Regions from separate parts of the Homo sapiens genome. Here region 2 is linked to region 1. The links come from fine-mapping of genetic effects on gene expression. Tissue or cell type: whole blood. Region 1 holds a variant in brackets; the other region holds the start of a gene. All regions are shown on one strand. Distances are from middle to middle.

Evidence for each region. PIP is the estimated chance that this variant, and not a neighbour inherited with it, causes the effect.
Region 2: it holds the start of UCP3, and the variant in region 1 is fine-mapped to the expression of UCP3 in whole blood (TOPMed, PIP above 0.99).

Annotation. Positions count from the first base shown.
Region 1 is chr11:73,947,819-73,955,922 of GRCh38, reverse strand. DNAJB13 (DnaJ heat shock protein family (Hsp40) member B13) reads right to left here and starts at 4,897. Exons shown (of 8, transcript NM_153614.4): 1 at 4,786-4,897. The coding sequence starts at 4,853. The variant C/T (reference allele first, on the strand shown) is at 3,744.
Region 2 is chr11:74,005,760-74,013,842 of GRCh38, reverse strand. It overlaps UCP3 (uncoupling protein 3), which reads left to right and starts at 4,758. Exons shown (of 7, transcript NM_003356.4): 1 at 4,758-4,865; 2 at 6,706-6,926; 3 at 7,464-7,674; 4 at 7,910-8,083. The coding sequence starts at 6,801. It overlaps C2CD3 (C2 domain containing 3 centriole elongation regulator), which reads left to right. Exons shown (of 33, transcript NM_001286577.2): 33 at 318-1,125. The coding sequence ends at 458. RefSeq lists enhancers at 1,788-1,937, 4,510-5,149 and a silencer at 5,283-5,463.

The sequences.
Region 1 (8,104 bases):
CCCTGGGGACCTTACAGAGAGAATATCTACCTTCAGAGACTTGAAGACAATTGTCACAGCCTTCCAAACCAGCCTTTCTCAATTATAAAGGTCACAGTCAGTTATTTTTATTTATTTATTTAGAGATAGAGTCTCACTCTGTCACCTAGGCTGGAGTGCAGTGGCGCGATCTGGGCTCACTGCATTGTCCGCCTCCCAGGTTCAAGTAGCTGGAACTACAGGTGCCCACCACCACACCTGGCTAATTTTTGTATTTTTAGTAGAGACGGGTTTTTGCCGTGTTGGCCATGCTGGTCTCAAACTCCTGGCCTCAAGTGATCTGCCCATCTCAGTCTCCTGTAATCCCAGCAATTTGGGAGGCCGAGGCAGGCAGATCACTTGAGATCAGGAGTTCGAGACCAGGCTGGCCAACATGGTGAAACCCCGTCTCTACTAAAAATAAAAAAATTAGCCGGGCACAGTGGCACACACCTGTAGTCCCAGCTACTCAGGGGGCTGAGGCAGAAGAATCACTTGAACCTAGAAGGTGGAGGTTGCAGTGAGCAGAGATCCTGCCACTGCACTCCAGCCTGGGTGGCAGAGAGAGACTCCGTTTCAAAAAAAAAAAAAAAAAAAGTAACAAGGTTTGAGAAAGGTTTAGTTTTTCATATAAATTTGAGTGGTTTCAAAATTATCCCTGCAATAACATCACTCTCATTCACCTGCTTTCCTGAGTGGGAGAGAAAGGGGTGAAATCACAGCTTGAACGCTGCAATTATGAATCCTGGGCAATTATAAACTATCATGATGTTTTTCTTCCTTATATAAGTTTAGCTCTTTTTTTTTTTGATCAATATCTAGGTGATCCCATGAGCAAGCATGTCATACATGTGACTTAGAGTTATTGCAGGGGAGAAGGGTTAAGGACTGCTTTTTGAAACCTACATAGTTCTTTTAATCACTCTATTTATTTTTATTTATTATTTATTTTTGAAATGGAGTTTTGCTCTTGTTGCTCAGGCTGGAGTACAATGACTCAATCTTGGTTCACTGCAACCTCCACCTCCCAGGTTCAAACGATTCTTCTGCCTCAGCCTCCCGCGTAGCTGGGATTACAGGTACCCGTCACCACGCCTGGCTAATTTTTTTTAGTAGAGACAGGGTTTTACCTTGTTGGCCAGGCTGGTCTTGAACTTCCGACCTCAGGAGATCCTCCTGCCTCGTCCTCCCAAAGTGCTGGGATTACAGGCATGAGCCACCGTGCCCAGCCTTATTTATTTATTTATTTATTTATTTATTTTATTTTTTTTTTTTGAGACGGAGTCTCACTCTGTTGCCCAGGCTGGAGTGCAGTGGCGCGATCTCGGCTCACTGCAAATTCCGCCTCCCAGGTTCACGCCATTCTCCTGCCTCACCCTCCCGAGTAGCTGGGACTACAGGCACCTGCTACCACGCCCGGCTATTTTTTTGTATTTTTAGTAGAGACGGGGTTTCACCATGTTATCCAGGATGGTCTTGATCTCCTGAACTCGTGATCCGCCCGCCTCAGCCTCCCAAAGTGCTGGGATTACAGGTGTGAGCCACTGCGCCCGGCCTACTTTTTTTTATTTATTTTTTTGAGACGAAGTCTCACTCTGTCACCCAGGCTGGAGTGCAATGGCACGATCTCGGCTCACTGCAACCTCTGCCTCCTGGGTTCAAGCAATTCTCCTGTCTCAGCCTCCCCAGTAGCTGGGATTACAGGCATGCGCCACTACACCTGGCTAATTTTTTGTATTTTTAATAGAGAAGTGGTTTCACCAAGTTGGCCAGGCTGGTCTCAAACTCCTGACCTCAAGTGGTCCACCTGCCTCAGCCTCCCAAAGTGCTAGGATTACAGGTGTGAGCCACTGTGTCCAGCCATTATTATTATTATTATTATTATTATTATTATTATTATTATTTTATTATTATTTTTGAGACAGAGTCTCGCTCTGTCGCCCAGGCTGGAGTGCAGTGGCGCAATCTCGCTCACTGTAAGCTCCACCTCCCGGGTTCACGCCATTCTCCTGCCTCAGCCTCCCGAGTAGCTGGGACTACAGGTGCCCGGCTAATTTTTTGTATTTTTTAGTAGAGACGGGGTTTCAGTGTGTTAGCCAGGATGGTCTTGAGGGAAGAGAGCGACCATCTCATATTGTTTTATACTCAGTACCTGTTTTAAAAAAAAGCAACAAGGAAGTAAAACCAAAGACAGGCAGCCCAGCGCCAGGCCTGAAACCAGGCCTGGGCCTGCCTGGCCTAAACCCAGTAGTTAAAAATCAACTCATAATTTAGAAACCGATGTTATTCATAGATTCCAGACATTGTATAGAAGAACATTGTGAAACTCCCTGCCCTGTTCTGTTTCTCTCTGACTACCAGTGCATGAAACCCGTCACGTACCCCTTGTTTGCTCAAATCAATCACGACCCTTTCATGTGAAATCTTTAGTGTTGTGAGCCCTTAAAAGGGACAGAAATTGTACACTCGGGGAGCTCGGATTTTAAGGCAGTAGCTGGCCGATGCTCCCAGCTGAATAAAGCTCTTCCTTCTACAACTCGGTGTCTGAGAGGTTTTTTCTGCGGCTCGTCCTGCTACAGTCTCGATCTCCTGACCTCGTGATCCGCCTACCTCGGCCTCCCAAAGTGCTGGGATTACAGGCATGAGCCACGGTGCCCGGCCCAGCCATTTTTATTTTTTTGAGACAGGTGTTGCTCTGTTGCCCAGACTGGAGTGCAGTGGTGCAATCATAGCTCAATGCAGCCTCTACCTTCTGGGCTCAAGCAATCCTCCCACCTCAGCCTCCCAAGTAGCTGGGACTACAGGTGTGTGCCATCATGCCCAGCTAATTTTTAAATTTTCTGTAGAGACAGGGTCTCCCTATGATGCCCAGGCTGCCCTCTCAAACTCCTGGGCCCAAGGGATCCTCCTGCTTTGGCCTCCTAAAGTGCTCAGATTACAGGCATGAAACACCATGCCAGGCCTTAATCACTCTTTATATGACATGGTTTCACATGCAAATGATTGCTGGACACATGCATTATCTCATCTAATCCTATTTCAATCTCACAGCAACCTTTATTATGATGATGATTTTTAGACATGGGAAAACTTCGGCTCAAAGAGGTTAAGTAATTTGCCCAGGTCACGCAGCTAGCAGGTAAGTGAATCTGGATTCTGATCCAGCCCTTTCCAGTGCTTAAGCTGTGCTTATCTTTCTGCACGCCCACTGCCCTTCCTCCTGATTACCTTTCCCTGGATGGGTCCTTCTGGTCAATGAGATGCTCCGAAGAGTGGGTGACATCATACACTGTCCTGAATTGTTCTCAGATCCTTTCATGAGTTTGTGTCTTTTTTCTCCAACACCGCAGACTCTCCACTTATGCCACTGATCCCCTACAGGACCTGGCCCAGGAATAGGCCCATGACTGGCAACTCTGGGAGGCCTGATATCTGAACACTGGCTCCACCATTTACTAGTGCACTTGTGGGATAATAATGGCACTTAATTCTCAGGGCTGTTGTGAGGGTTAAACAGTGATGGAAAGTTCTCAGAACAGCACCTACACACTCAAAACATACACCTATTGTCACTGCCTAACTTAATTGATTGAGTTATCCTGGACTCCTCTTTTCTTCACCCTCCAGTGATCCACTTAATTACCAAGTCCATTCCCTCCCCTTTCTCTGGCCTCATCTTTTGCCTTGATTACCACGAACAGCCTCCTAAAGGGTCTCTCTCCTTC[C/T]AAGATAACTTCCACAGCCCCCCATACTTCCTCTTCTGTAACACTCATCACAGTTGTGGTGACTTATTCAACATCTATTCAGCAACAAAATCTAGCTGCATGAGGTAAGGGAGTGTCGATGTCGGATTCCGACATTTATCTCCAGCTGCTACCACTGCAGCAGGAGTGAAGTACCCTCTCAACCCTTGTGGTAGACGCTCAATAAATATTTGTTAAAAAAAAAAACATGTTTTTGGCCAGGTGCGGTGACTCACACCTATAATCCCAGCACTTGGGAAGGCTGAGGCGGGTGGATCACCAGAGGTCGGGAATTTGAGACCAGCCTGACCAAAAAGGAGAAACCCCATCTCTACTAAAAATACAAAATTAGCTGGGCATGGTGGTGCATGCCTGTAATCCCAGCTACTTGGGAAGCTGAGGCAGAAGAATCGCTTGAACCCAGGAGGTGGAGGTTGCGGTGAGCCGAGATCACGCCATTGCACTCCAGCCTGGGCAACAAGACCAAGACTCCGTCTCAAAACAAAAAACAAAAACATGTTTTCAGAAAAATGTACTGACTCCTGTTGTAGGCTTTCTTAGGAACGAGCCAGAACGTCCTTAAGATCCGATGGAAGTATTCAGGAATGTAGTTTAGTCAATGCTGAAAACCTCCATCATGGCCAGAATTGAATTTAAAACATCCATCTGGCCTGGCCACTCCCTTGTTCACAAGCCTCTGGTTCTCCATAATATTCAAGATAAAGTTCAAATGGCTCCTTTGTCCCCACTTCATTGCTGGGAAAAGCAAGGCACCCAGGAGAGGATATAGGGCATGGAGCATAAAGGGAGATGGGTTGGGAGCAGATTGAGGAACTAAAGAGTTCAAATTTCCAACCTGGGCCCTGACCCAGACCAAAGCCAGGATACAGGTATGCAAGAAGTGAAAGGAGGAACAAGGTTTACCTTGTCTGCGCTAAGCTGTGCAGGAAAGCTCGTTTTGGAAGAGAAGAGGGCAGGGCCTGCCCCAGCACACCCCTAAGGCCTGGCTCCCACCCCAACTTACGCCTGCTTGATCTGGGCATCCTCTGAATTGCGAGTGATCCCGAGCACAGAGTAATAATCCTGGCCCATGGCTGGCTAGCTGGCAGTCAGGCCCTGGATAGTCCTCAGACTCTAGCAAGGCTGTTAGTTGGCTTCCTTGGTTGCTCCTGACAACCGCACAGGTGCACTCTGGGAGTTGTAGTCCCACTTCCCTAAACAAATTTCAGCTCTGCCACAGAGAGGAGTCAGTGAAAGGACTGGGGGAGAGCTGGGGCTGATTCTGCGACCCTGTGAAAGGTCACTCAACTCGGAAATTGAAGACTCACAGGGCTCTGTTTTATTTTGTTTTTGTTTTTAAAGAGAGCAGTAATTAGTTTTAATAAAAAGGTTTTAGAAGAAATGCATTTGGCTAATTTTTTAAAAATACATTTATTTTAGAACAGTTTTAGAGTTTAGAAAAGTTGAGAAGACAGTACAGAGAGTTCCCATATACCTCACATCCACATTCTCCTATTTTATTATTATTATTATCATTATCATGTTTTTGAGACAGGGTCTTCACTCTGTCACCCAGGCTGGTGGGCAGTGGCAGGATCACACCTCACTGCAGTCTCAACCTCCCAGGCTCAAGGGATTCTTCCACCTCAGCCTTCCAAGTAGCTGAGACACAGGCGTGCACTACCATGCCTGGCTAATTTTTGTATGTTTTGTAGAGATGGGGTTTCACCATGTTGCCCAGACTGGTCTTGAACTCTTGGGCTCGGCTTGGCCTCCCAAAGTGCTGGGATTACAGGTGTGAGCCACTGCATTCACATTCCCCTATTATTAACATCTTACATTAGTATGGTACATTTGTCACAAATAATGACCAATATTGATACATTATTATTAACTAAAATCCACATTTTATTCAGATTTACTAGTTGTTTTAACCTAATATCTTATTTCTGTTCCGGACCCCATCCAGGATGCCACGTTACACTTAGCTGTTGCATCTCCTCTGGTGCCTCCTGACTGTGACAGTTTCTCAGACTTTCCATGTTTTTGATGACCTTGACAGTTTAAGTAATAATGGTCAGGTGTTTTGTAGAATGTCCTGCAATTGGAATTTGTTTGGTGTTTTTCTTTTTGTTTGTTTGTTTTTGTTTTTTGAGATGGAGTCTCACTCCATCGCCCAGGCTGGAGTGCAGTGGCACAATTTCAGCTCACTGCAACCTCTGCCTCCCGGGTTCCAGCGATTCTCCTGCCTCAGCCTCCCAAGTAGCTGAGATTACAGGCATGTGCCACCATGCCCGGCTAATTTTTGTTATTTTTACTAGAGACGGGGTTTCACCATGTTGGCCAGGCTGGTCTCAAACTCCTGACCTCAAGTGATCCACCCACCTCAGCCTCCCAAAGTGTTGGGATTACAGGCGTGAGCCACCGCGCCAGCCCTCCTTCCCCACTTGCTGTATTGCACTCTTTGGAAGGCAGTCACTGTGCGGCCCACCCTTACAGTGAGGGAGTTATGCTCCACCTCTCTGAGTACAGCAGAGCCCTGTTTTCCATGCACATCCCAAATCCAACTGGTCACCAAGCTCAGTCCATTCTGCTTCCTAGACAACCTCTCAAGCCCAGCTCCTCTGCTCTTCCTCCTCATAATCAGGGCCCAGCTCTGGATTCATCTTTCAGCAAGACCACAACAACTTCCTCGCGGGCCTGCCTGCCTTGTCTCTGTTCTGCAAAGCCCACACTCCTCATTACTTCGAGTGAACTCCAAACTGCTTACCATGGCACACAGGCCCTCTGTGATCTGGTGCCTCCCTTTCCACCTGAGCTCTCACCACTGCCCTACACGCACCCACTGCTTGTCAGAATGGACTGCAGTGCCTGCCACTGCCCAAACCAGCCATCCCCTCTCCTCATTCACCTCTGCTGCTACCTCTGCTCAGAACCTCCCACCCCACCCACCACAGACCCTCGCCTCAACCCAGCTAACTTCTATTTGTTTTTTCTTCTTAGGAAGAAAAAGAGCAGCATTAGAACATTCCTTGTTGAAGGAATATTGCCCCGATGTGCCCCTCCCTACCTGTTTGTAATTCTCTTGCTTTTCTTTAGAGCTTTACTCCATATGCCTGTACCCAGTGGTGTGCTGTTTTGTGGCATTTGCCAGTTCTTCCCAAGCCAGTACAAGCCAGCTCCAGTGCCACACTGCAAATATCCACAGCAACATATTTACCTTTTCATATTTTTGAACTTTATATAAATGGTATCATTTATACAAATGGTAGGTATTTGTGTGTGTGACTTATTGTCACAGGCTGTATAGTACTCTCTGTTGATGAACATTTGGGTATATGCGCCCACTTTGCAAGGCAATGCCAAAGTTTTCTGGTGTGGTTTTCTAATTTACGCTGGCAACAGCAGTGTATCAGTTTCTTTTGCTTCATATCCTTACCAACTCTTTTTTTTTTTTAAGACAGGGTCTCCCTCTATTGCCCAGGCTGGAGTGCAGTGGTGCGATCATGGCTCAACCTCCTGCAGCCTCGACTTCCTGGGCTTAAGCAATCCTCCTGCCTCAGCCTCGCAAGTAGCTGGAAACCCAGGCACACACCACCACATCAGGCTAATTTTTAAATTTTTTGTAGAGACGAGGTCTTGCCATATTGTGCAAACAGGTCTTGAACTCATGGGCTCAAGTGATCCTTCCATCTCAGCTTCCCAAAGTGCTGGGATTATGGACATGAGCCAACACTCCTGGCCCTCACCAACTCTTGATGTCAAGTTTTAAAACGTTTGCCAATATAGTAGGCATAAAGTGGCATCTCATTGTGGATTTTAATTTGCATTTCTTGGTTGAGTATCTTTTCATACTTATTGGCCATTTGTTTTTCCTCATTGTGAAACACCTATTTATGTTTTTGCCCATTTTTTTCTATTTGACTATCCTTTTTACAAACTGACAGGCCGGGCATAGTGGCTCATGCCTGTAATCCCAGCACTTGGGGAGGCCGAGGTGGATGGATCACCTGAGGTCAGGAGTACAAGACCAGCCTGACCAACATGGAGAAACCCCATCTCTACTAAAAATACAAAATTAGCTGGACATGGTGGCGCATGCCTGTAATCCCAGCTACTTGGGAGGCTGAGGCAGAAGAATAGCTTGAACCTGGGAGGCAGAGGTTGCGGTGAGCAGAGATTGTGCCACTTCACTCCAGCCTGGGCAACAAGAACGAAACTCCGTCTCAAAAAAAAAAAAAAAAAAAAAAACTGACTAGTGGCTTTTTATGTTTTTTGAAAACAAACTCTTTGTTGATAATATGAAATACGAATCCTTTCTTCAACTTGAAGCTTTTTTCACC
Region 2 (8,083 bases), 58 kb before region 1:
TGACGCTGCCTCCTTCTCCAGAGGCACAGAAAGAGTCAGGGCTGGGGTTCACGTCCCAGCTCTGCTACTCAGAGCTGTGGGACCTTGAGTTTATTCCACCTGAATGTAGTTTCCTTATCCACGACATGGGGAGAATGATATACCCCCCATATGGGGTTGAGGTAAGGGTCAAGCAAGATAAGGTACGTAAAGCGCTTTGTAAACCAGGCAGCTCTACATAAATATTAACCAAAGGACCAAAAGATGAGAGAAACCAGCGTCATCCATTGGTGGTGCCATATCCTCAGTGGTAACCTAGCTGACTTCTTCCTCTCCAGGACAAGAGCGAAGCCACCAGGGGAGCTCTCTCCCAAAGGCCTTGTCGCCCCAGACCTAACTCGCTCCCCCTCAACCTGCCTGAGGAAGAAACTCTCAGGATTGCACGGATATTTTCTTCTCAGTACTCCCAGAAAGACTGACGCAGCCTGAGGGGCTGGGGGGAAGGAGACACCTGCCCACCCTCCGTCAGCTTTGTCCAGCTTGCAGGAGGCACCAGGTCTGGCTCCTTCAGGGCTGTCACAGTCCTGAAACCACCACTTGCCTAGGCCACGGATGCCTCAAGAGACCCGGTCAGCCCAGACTGGAGGAGTGCCCCAAACCAGTCCAGTGTCCACTTGCCAGAATTTCAGCTCCTTTTTTCTGTGGTGAGGCAAAGGCTAGAAATAAAATGGAATCCGCGCCCAAGTGGGACCCAAGCAGGCATCTTTCGGTGGAGAAACGCCCCCCAGTGTCCTTGACACAGCTGACTGCTGGCATGAGCCCACCCTCTGCCTGAAGATGCAGGACCATTTTTGCCTTAAAAGTTGGGGAGGAGGGACATGTAGATTGTGTGCATTGTGCATAGTCAAGGAAATCCTAGGGCCACCTCCAGTTCATTTGTGTGGGAACAAGGATATTTTATAGATACAAATTATTTTTATGCTGTGTTGAATTAATCAATTAGGAGAGGAAGGGGAAATCACTTCCTTCAAACTTTTTATCTGATTGTCTAAAATTCTAACCATGCTTTTAACTTATTATTTTTACCCAGCTCTGAAGGTCATTGTTCTTGCCTGTGTTTGAATAAAATCATATTGGTGTTTGTAATCTGTGCACAAGTGTTTCGCTGGAGTGGGGATGCTAGGAATTCGTGTGTGCCCTAACTGCCAGAGAGAAAGATTAACAACCATACACCCCACGCAGACGAAGATCAATCACCATGAGACTTCTGGCTCCTCCAGAATCAGGTTGGTCCAGATGACAGTGACACCCAGTATTTCCTTTGCTGATGCTTGAAATCCATCAGACAAAGCCCCGTGGGGAGGACAAGAAAAGGGCCATGGATGGGTGCAGTGGCTCACACCTGTAATCCAAACACTTTGGGAAGCCGAGGCAGGCAGATCACCTGAGGTCAGGAGTTTGAGACTACCCTGGCCAACCTGGCAAAACCCCGTCTCTACTAAAAAAAAAAAAAATACAAAAATTAGCTGGGCGTGGTGCACGCCTGTAGTCCTAGCTACTCAGGAGGCTGAGGCAGGAGAATCACTTGAACCCAAGAGGTGGAGGTTGCAGTGAACCGAGACCACGCCACTGCACTCCAGCCTGGACAACAGAGCAAGACTCCGTATCACAAAAAAAAAAAAAAAAAATGGGGTCGCGGGAGCCAAATGTGCAGAGTGAGCAGTGTGGCTGGGCAACAGGCTTTCACCCCCAAGTACATGTCACTTCACTCAGTCCTCAAAACAGCTCTCTAACTCTAGATATTATGATATCTAGAGTTTCTGTAAGTTCAGTGTTTTGCCTCTGTTTGTGTAGTTAGGAAGTGATTAACCACACAAGAAATCCCAGAGGTATTGCAAGGCTACTGCTTTCAGTAATCAAAACAAGGTACAGCCAATAAGTGCTCTGAATTTAGGGACTTCATGGAGAAAGACCATGTGGGCTGGGGCAGTCAGGGAAGGCTTCCTAGAAGAGACAGGTCTTGGGGTGAGCACAGAGAATTGGCCCAGGCTGTGGACAGCTATAGAGAGAGAGCCAGGAAAGCCTGTGAGCAGTGTGCAGCTGGAGATAGAGACCAGTCTCACTGCGTCTGAGCCTCTGTGGCCTCGTCTGTAAAACAGAGATAATCACCCCAGCTTCATGGGGTTGTGAGGAAGATCAAATGAGATGACATTTGTGAAAGTGCTTCGCCTACTTTTGGCACATGGTGGAAGCTTAGGAAATGTCAGCCCCACCCACTCTCCTGACTTTCGGGAGCAAACCAGTAGAGAGGCAAGCATGCAGCCACTGGGGCAGGCAGAGCACTCCTGGGCCTCAGAGGGTGCAAAATGATGCGGGAACCTCAAGGAAGGAGTGGGTGCTGCCTTCTTGGTGACAAGCCCTCCCGCTTCTATTTATCTCTGCTCCGACGCCTGCCAGCCCACCCCTCCCCAGCACCACAGAGGCCAGCCTCCCTCTCAAGTCACCAGCACAGAGCATTCAAGGCCCAGGGCCCCACTTCCCTTGGGGCCCAGGGGACCTAAAGAGGGGCAGTCAGGGCCCAGGCCTGAGGGGGAAAGCCCCAGGTAAAGAATATTCCTCCAAATCCCACTCCAGCTCCCGCAGACAACCTGATCGGGGTCAGGAGGACACACTCCTACCCCAGGCTGAGAGCAGCCTCTGATAACACAAAAGGACCCTGAGGGTGGAGACCTCCCACCTCCACTTCAAAACAGTGTGTTATTTATCAATATCTTATCCCCGGAAGTTGAATCTATCTCCCAGTGCCAACTCCGAGATAAATGACTTGACCAGGCGTGTGGCATGGATTAAGGCATGAGATAGGTGTTCCCACCACCAGAACGAGCCAGTGGCTGCCTCTCTTCCCTTTGAGCCCTCCCTCCACAGAGACCTGTGAATAGGTGTTTCTGATCCCTAGGCTGGTTGCATCCCAACCCAGAGCAGGCAGCCTTCGGACTTCTAGCATGGGCTGGCCTCAGGACATGGAGCCAAAGCAGGCAGACCTGGCCCTGCCCTCAAGCTCCCAAGCTAAAGAGAGCCTGGCCCTCCCTCCCACTAGGTTTCTCCAGAGCCTGCTGCCTCCTGGTTTGGGCTTCTACTCTATTCTTCCCCCACAGACTCCCTGCAATTTACTGCATCACCTCTAGACTAGCAATTACAGATGGAGCTCAGAACCTACTTCCTGAGCCTTCCTAATCTCAGCAGCCCTGACAGCCACTTCCCTCTTAACACTAATGCAGCTGCTTATTCTGCTGACATTAAGGTCAGGGCCTGGTCCAAGGAAGAGGACAGGTACAGCCCAAGCTTTGCACTTGAACATCCATGCTTCTGACCACCTGCCCTGTGACGCTGGCTCTGTGCCCCAGTCCAGAAAAGACTTCTGCCTACTCCTCCTCTGCCCTACCCAGTTAACTCCCTTTCCTTCCCTCCCTTCTGCTTCTCACTCCTCCCCTCCCTTCTCTTCTTCTTCTCCCCTTCCCCCATCACCTGGGGCCCGATTCAGCTGTGCCCAGCCCTTACTCTGAGTGCCCACAGATGGAGCCTCCAGTAGCTTCTGTGGGGCACCCTTCCACCAGGTCCCAGCTCCCTTGGCTCCAGCAGTGTCCATGCTAAAGCCTCCAAGTGTCATGTTGGAGAGAATGGTGGTCACAGTAGATAAGCCCAAAATGCCTTACAGTTTACAGGCTGGAGTCAGGCCCCGCCACGTGCTGGCTACATGACTTCCCTGAGATTCCATTTCCTCCTCAGTAAAATAAGTGGTAAGATTTTAGGATCCCCAGCACTAAAAAGAAACGAAATACTGATACAGGCTCCAACATGGATGAATTTTGAAAGCATTACTATACTAAGTGAAAGAAGCCAGTCACAAACAAGCACATATTGGATGATTCCATTTCTAGGAAGTGTTCAGAACAGGCAAATTTATAGAGACAGAAAGTAGATTGATTAGTGGTTGCCTGAGGCTGGGGAGCGGGGGAAGGGAGGTGACTACCAATGTGTATGGAGTTTTTCCAGGGTGAGAGGGTGATGAAAATGTTCTAAAATAGATTGTGTTGATGGTTGTGCCACTCAGAATATACTAAAAACCATTTGAATTGTGCACTTGAAACAGATGAATTGTACGGTATGTGAATTCTATATCAATAAATCTGTAATTTAAAAAAAAAAAATTAGGTCGGGTGCAGTGGCTCACACCTATAATCCCAGCACTTTGCCAGACTGAGGCAGGAGGATCACTTAAGCCCAGGAGTTCAAGACCAGCCTGGGGAACACAGCAAGACCTCGTCTCTACTAAAAAATTTTAAATTACAAAAAAAAAAAGTAAAAAAAATAGAATCCTAATAGTACCTATCTCATAGGATTGTGGAAAATAGTAGTAATGTATGTAAAATATTTAGCACATAGTAGGCACAAAGAAATGACATTATTATTAAGAGACCTGGGAGAGCTGTGCCCAGCCTATCGTGGGAGGCCTTGACCTTTGGACTCAAAAGTGGCAGCAGGTCCACCCCCCCATACACCCTTGTCACCAAGGAAGCGTCCACAGCTTAAAGGAGCTATATTAAAGCACCCCAAGTCAAGAGGACTGAACCAGATCTGGAACTCACTCACCTCCCCTCTCACCTCACTGCCCTCACCAGCCAGCCTCTTGTCAAGTGATCAGGCTGTCAACCAACTTCTCTAGGATAAGGTTTCAGGTCAGCCCGTGTGTATAAGACCAGTGCCAAGCCAGAAGCAGCAGAGACAACAGTGAATGACAAGGAGGGGCCATCCAATCCCTGCTGCCACCTCCTGGGATGGAGCCCTAGGGAGCCCCTGTGCTGCCCCTGCCGTGGCAGGACTCACAGGTAAGACCCCTTTCTCCTCCCTCATCCCTTCCCCTCTCCCTCTCCCTTCTCCTTGTTCTCCCTTTCATTGGAGGCTTTCAGAGAGCAGCCCCGAGCAGTCAGGGCTCACTAGCTGCAGCTTGTCAGACCTGATAGAGATTCAGTCCAGCCGCCACCTTATGAAAAGGGAGCTGTGGCCTTGATGAGGGTACTGTGGCAGGGCTGGGGCTTGAACCCAACACCCGTGTCACTCACTCAAGACTCACACCCCCTTTGCCTTGCTGGCTGCCTCTGGTGGGATTTTGCAAATCCCCATAGACAGGAAGTGGCTTTCTTCTTTGCCTGCCCCAGAATCTCTGCGATTCCTCCAGAGCATAAATCCCTCTCTTTCCATGAGGACCCTGGGGCCCTCTTCCTGAGTAGGGATGACAGGGGCACTTCTGACCTGAGGCGTGGTCCAGGTCATTTGCTGGGAGCTTTACAGAGCCCATGGTCTCTGCCCAGACGGCTTCTTCAGTGGGCTGCTGTGAAGGCTTTGCCGGGAGGGTGGGTTGGAGTTGGGGAGGCAACTGGTGTTGGGTAGGATGTCTCAAAATGGGGTCCTCTTCCCCTGCTTCAGAGCTACCACAGGGAGTTTTCCTAATGCAGATTCCTAGGCCCCACCCCAGACCTAAATCAGGATCTCTGGGGCTGAGAGCTGAGAATCTGCTCTGTAAACAAGCAGCTCAAGGGATCCTTGGCTCTCCCTGAAGTCTGAGACTCTCTGGGCAGTGAAACAGGCGCAGCTTCAGATGTCAGACAAACGTGGGCACCAATCTCAGCTCCAGCACTTCAGCTGTATGACTAGCAAAAGCCCTGGAAGCCTCAGGTCCCTGGTTTACGAAATGAGAATAATAATAGCAACTACTTGTAGCCTTATGAAGGGATCAAATCAGTCAGTGTCTGTAAAGCCCTCAGCACGGTATCTGGTGCAAGAAGCAACCAGCAAACATTAATGGACCATGCTGACTAGAACATCCCATCCCTCAGGAGCCCCAGCAGAGCTACAGTAATGAGGGTTCCACTTTTGACTTCTTCCTCCACTGGCCAGTGGCAAAAGGCTGCCGGCTGCTAGGGGTCTAGGAGAGTCTGGAGTGAATTGGGAAGAAGATTGGGGAGTGCTGGCCTCAAGGCACCTCCTACCTGTGCCCACCACTGTGGCTTTCCCTCCTCCCGCAGCTTGACTACTGAAAGTTCTAGAGCCCCAAGGTGGGCTTTTGACCTGAGTCTGTGTCCATCCATTCCATTTTCCATGAGTGGCTAAGAACTGCCCCTCTTGTCAAGTGATCACGCTGAGGCCAAGAGTTCAAGACCAGAATAGGCAACATAGAGAGACCCCCATCTCTACAAAAAATAAAAAATTAGCTGGGTATGGTGATGCACACCTGTAGTCCCAGCTACTCGGGAGGCTGAAGGTGGGAGGGTCACTTGAGTCCAAGAGGTCAAGGCTGCAGTGAGCCTGGATTGCACCACTGCACTCCAGCCCAGGTAACAGAGTGAGACCCTGTCTCAAAAAAAAAAAGGAGGCAGTTTGATATTGGGGAGAACAGATGCCTGAGCCTCGGTTTCCTCATGTATACAGTGCAGGTACCACTATCAGCTCTGCCTACCCCTGGTAAGGAGGGGAGGGAGAGGGTCAGGAGGAGGATTGCAAAATTCAAGGGATAGGAACGTGACCTGTTTTTATAGGCCAAATTCATGCAGCTTAAGTATGGCACCACCCAGGCTTCTCCCTTTCTAAAGCCCCTCCTGGGTAAGGAAGAGTTCCTGGGAGCCAGGCCAGACATCACTCCATCAGCCTTCTCTGGCCTGTCTCCTGCAGCCCCACCGCTGCACTGAAGCCCAGGGCTGTGGAGCAGCCTCTCTCCTTGGACCTCCTCTCGGCCCTAAAGGGACTGGGCAGAGCCTTCCAGGACTATGGTTGGACTGAAGCCTTCAGACGTGCCTCCCACCATGGCTGTGAAGTTCCTGGGGGCAGGCACAGCAGCCTGTTTTGCTGACCTCGTTACCTTTCCACTGGACACAGCCAAGGTCCGCCTGCAGGTAGGTGCCCTTTGGCCAAGGGTCATTGATCACATGGAAGGAGGGGCTAGTTCTCTCCCATATCCCCCATGACGTGTGCCCACATGCCCTTCCTCAGAACCCTGACAAAGACTCTCACTCCACTGCTTAGGACCCTTCCTTGCCTCCTCCCATCACCATCCACCAGGACAAAAAAATCTAAATTCTTTGCATGATGTGACAGGGCCCTTTATGGGCTAGGCCCTACTTTGTAAAGCATGCAGTGTGAGGTAAAAGTAAGGAATTAACTGTGTGACCTTGGGCAAGCCACGAAGCACTTATAAAATGGGAAAAACAATCTGTCCCTCTGATTTACTCTGAGGATCAAACACCAAGCCATGTGTATAATACTGCTTTGTGAATGGTAAAATGCTGCGCAGACACCAGTGATTTCTACTGTGACCAGCATGGTTGTTCTCAGGCCCAGCCCAGGCAGGCCCAGCCCCAGCAGGGTTCCTGTGCACGCAGCCCCTTCTTGCCTTCCCATCTGAGTCCTCACCCCCTGCTATTGTCCCTCAGATCCAGGGGGAGAACCAGGCGGTCCAGACGGCCCGGCTCGTGCAGTACCGTGGCGTGCTGGGCACCATCCTGACCATGGTGCGGACTGAGGGTCCCTGCAGCCCCTACAATGGGCTGGTGGCCGGCCTGCAGCGCCAGATGAGCTTCGCCTCCATCCGCATCGGCCTCTATGACTCCGTCAAGCAGGTGTACACCCCCAAAGGCGCGGACAGTGAGTGACCAGGTCCCTGAACACCAAAGGGGTGGCTGAAAGTGTGTGGGTCAAGAGACCAGGGAAGTCTAGACTCAGAGGCAGAGCCAGGGGCGGGGGGAAGCTGGTACCGGACGCTTATGAGGAGGCTCTGAGTGGACATCAAGGAAGCTGCAGGGGCAGCCCCGCAGAGAACAGCATGTCCCAGAATGCTGCTTAGTAGGGGACACTGGCCCACTCTCTCTGCCCCTCCCAGACTCCAGCCTCACTACCCGGATTTTGGCCGGCTGCACCACAGGAGCCATGGCGGTGACCTGTGCCCAGCCCACAGATGTGGTGAAGGTCCGATTTCAGGCCAGCATACACCTCGGGCCATCCAGGAGCGACAGAAAATACAGCGGGACTATGGACGCCTACAGAACCATCGCCA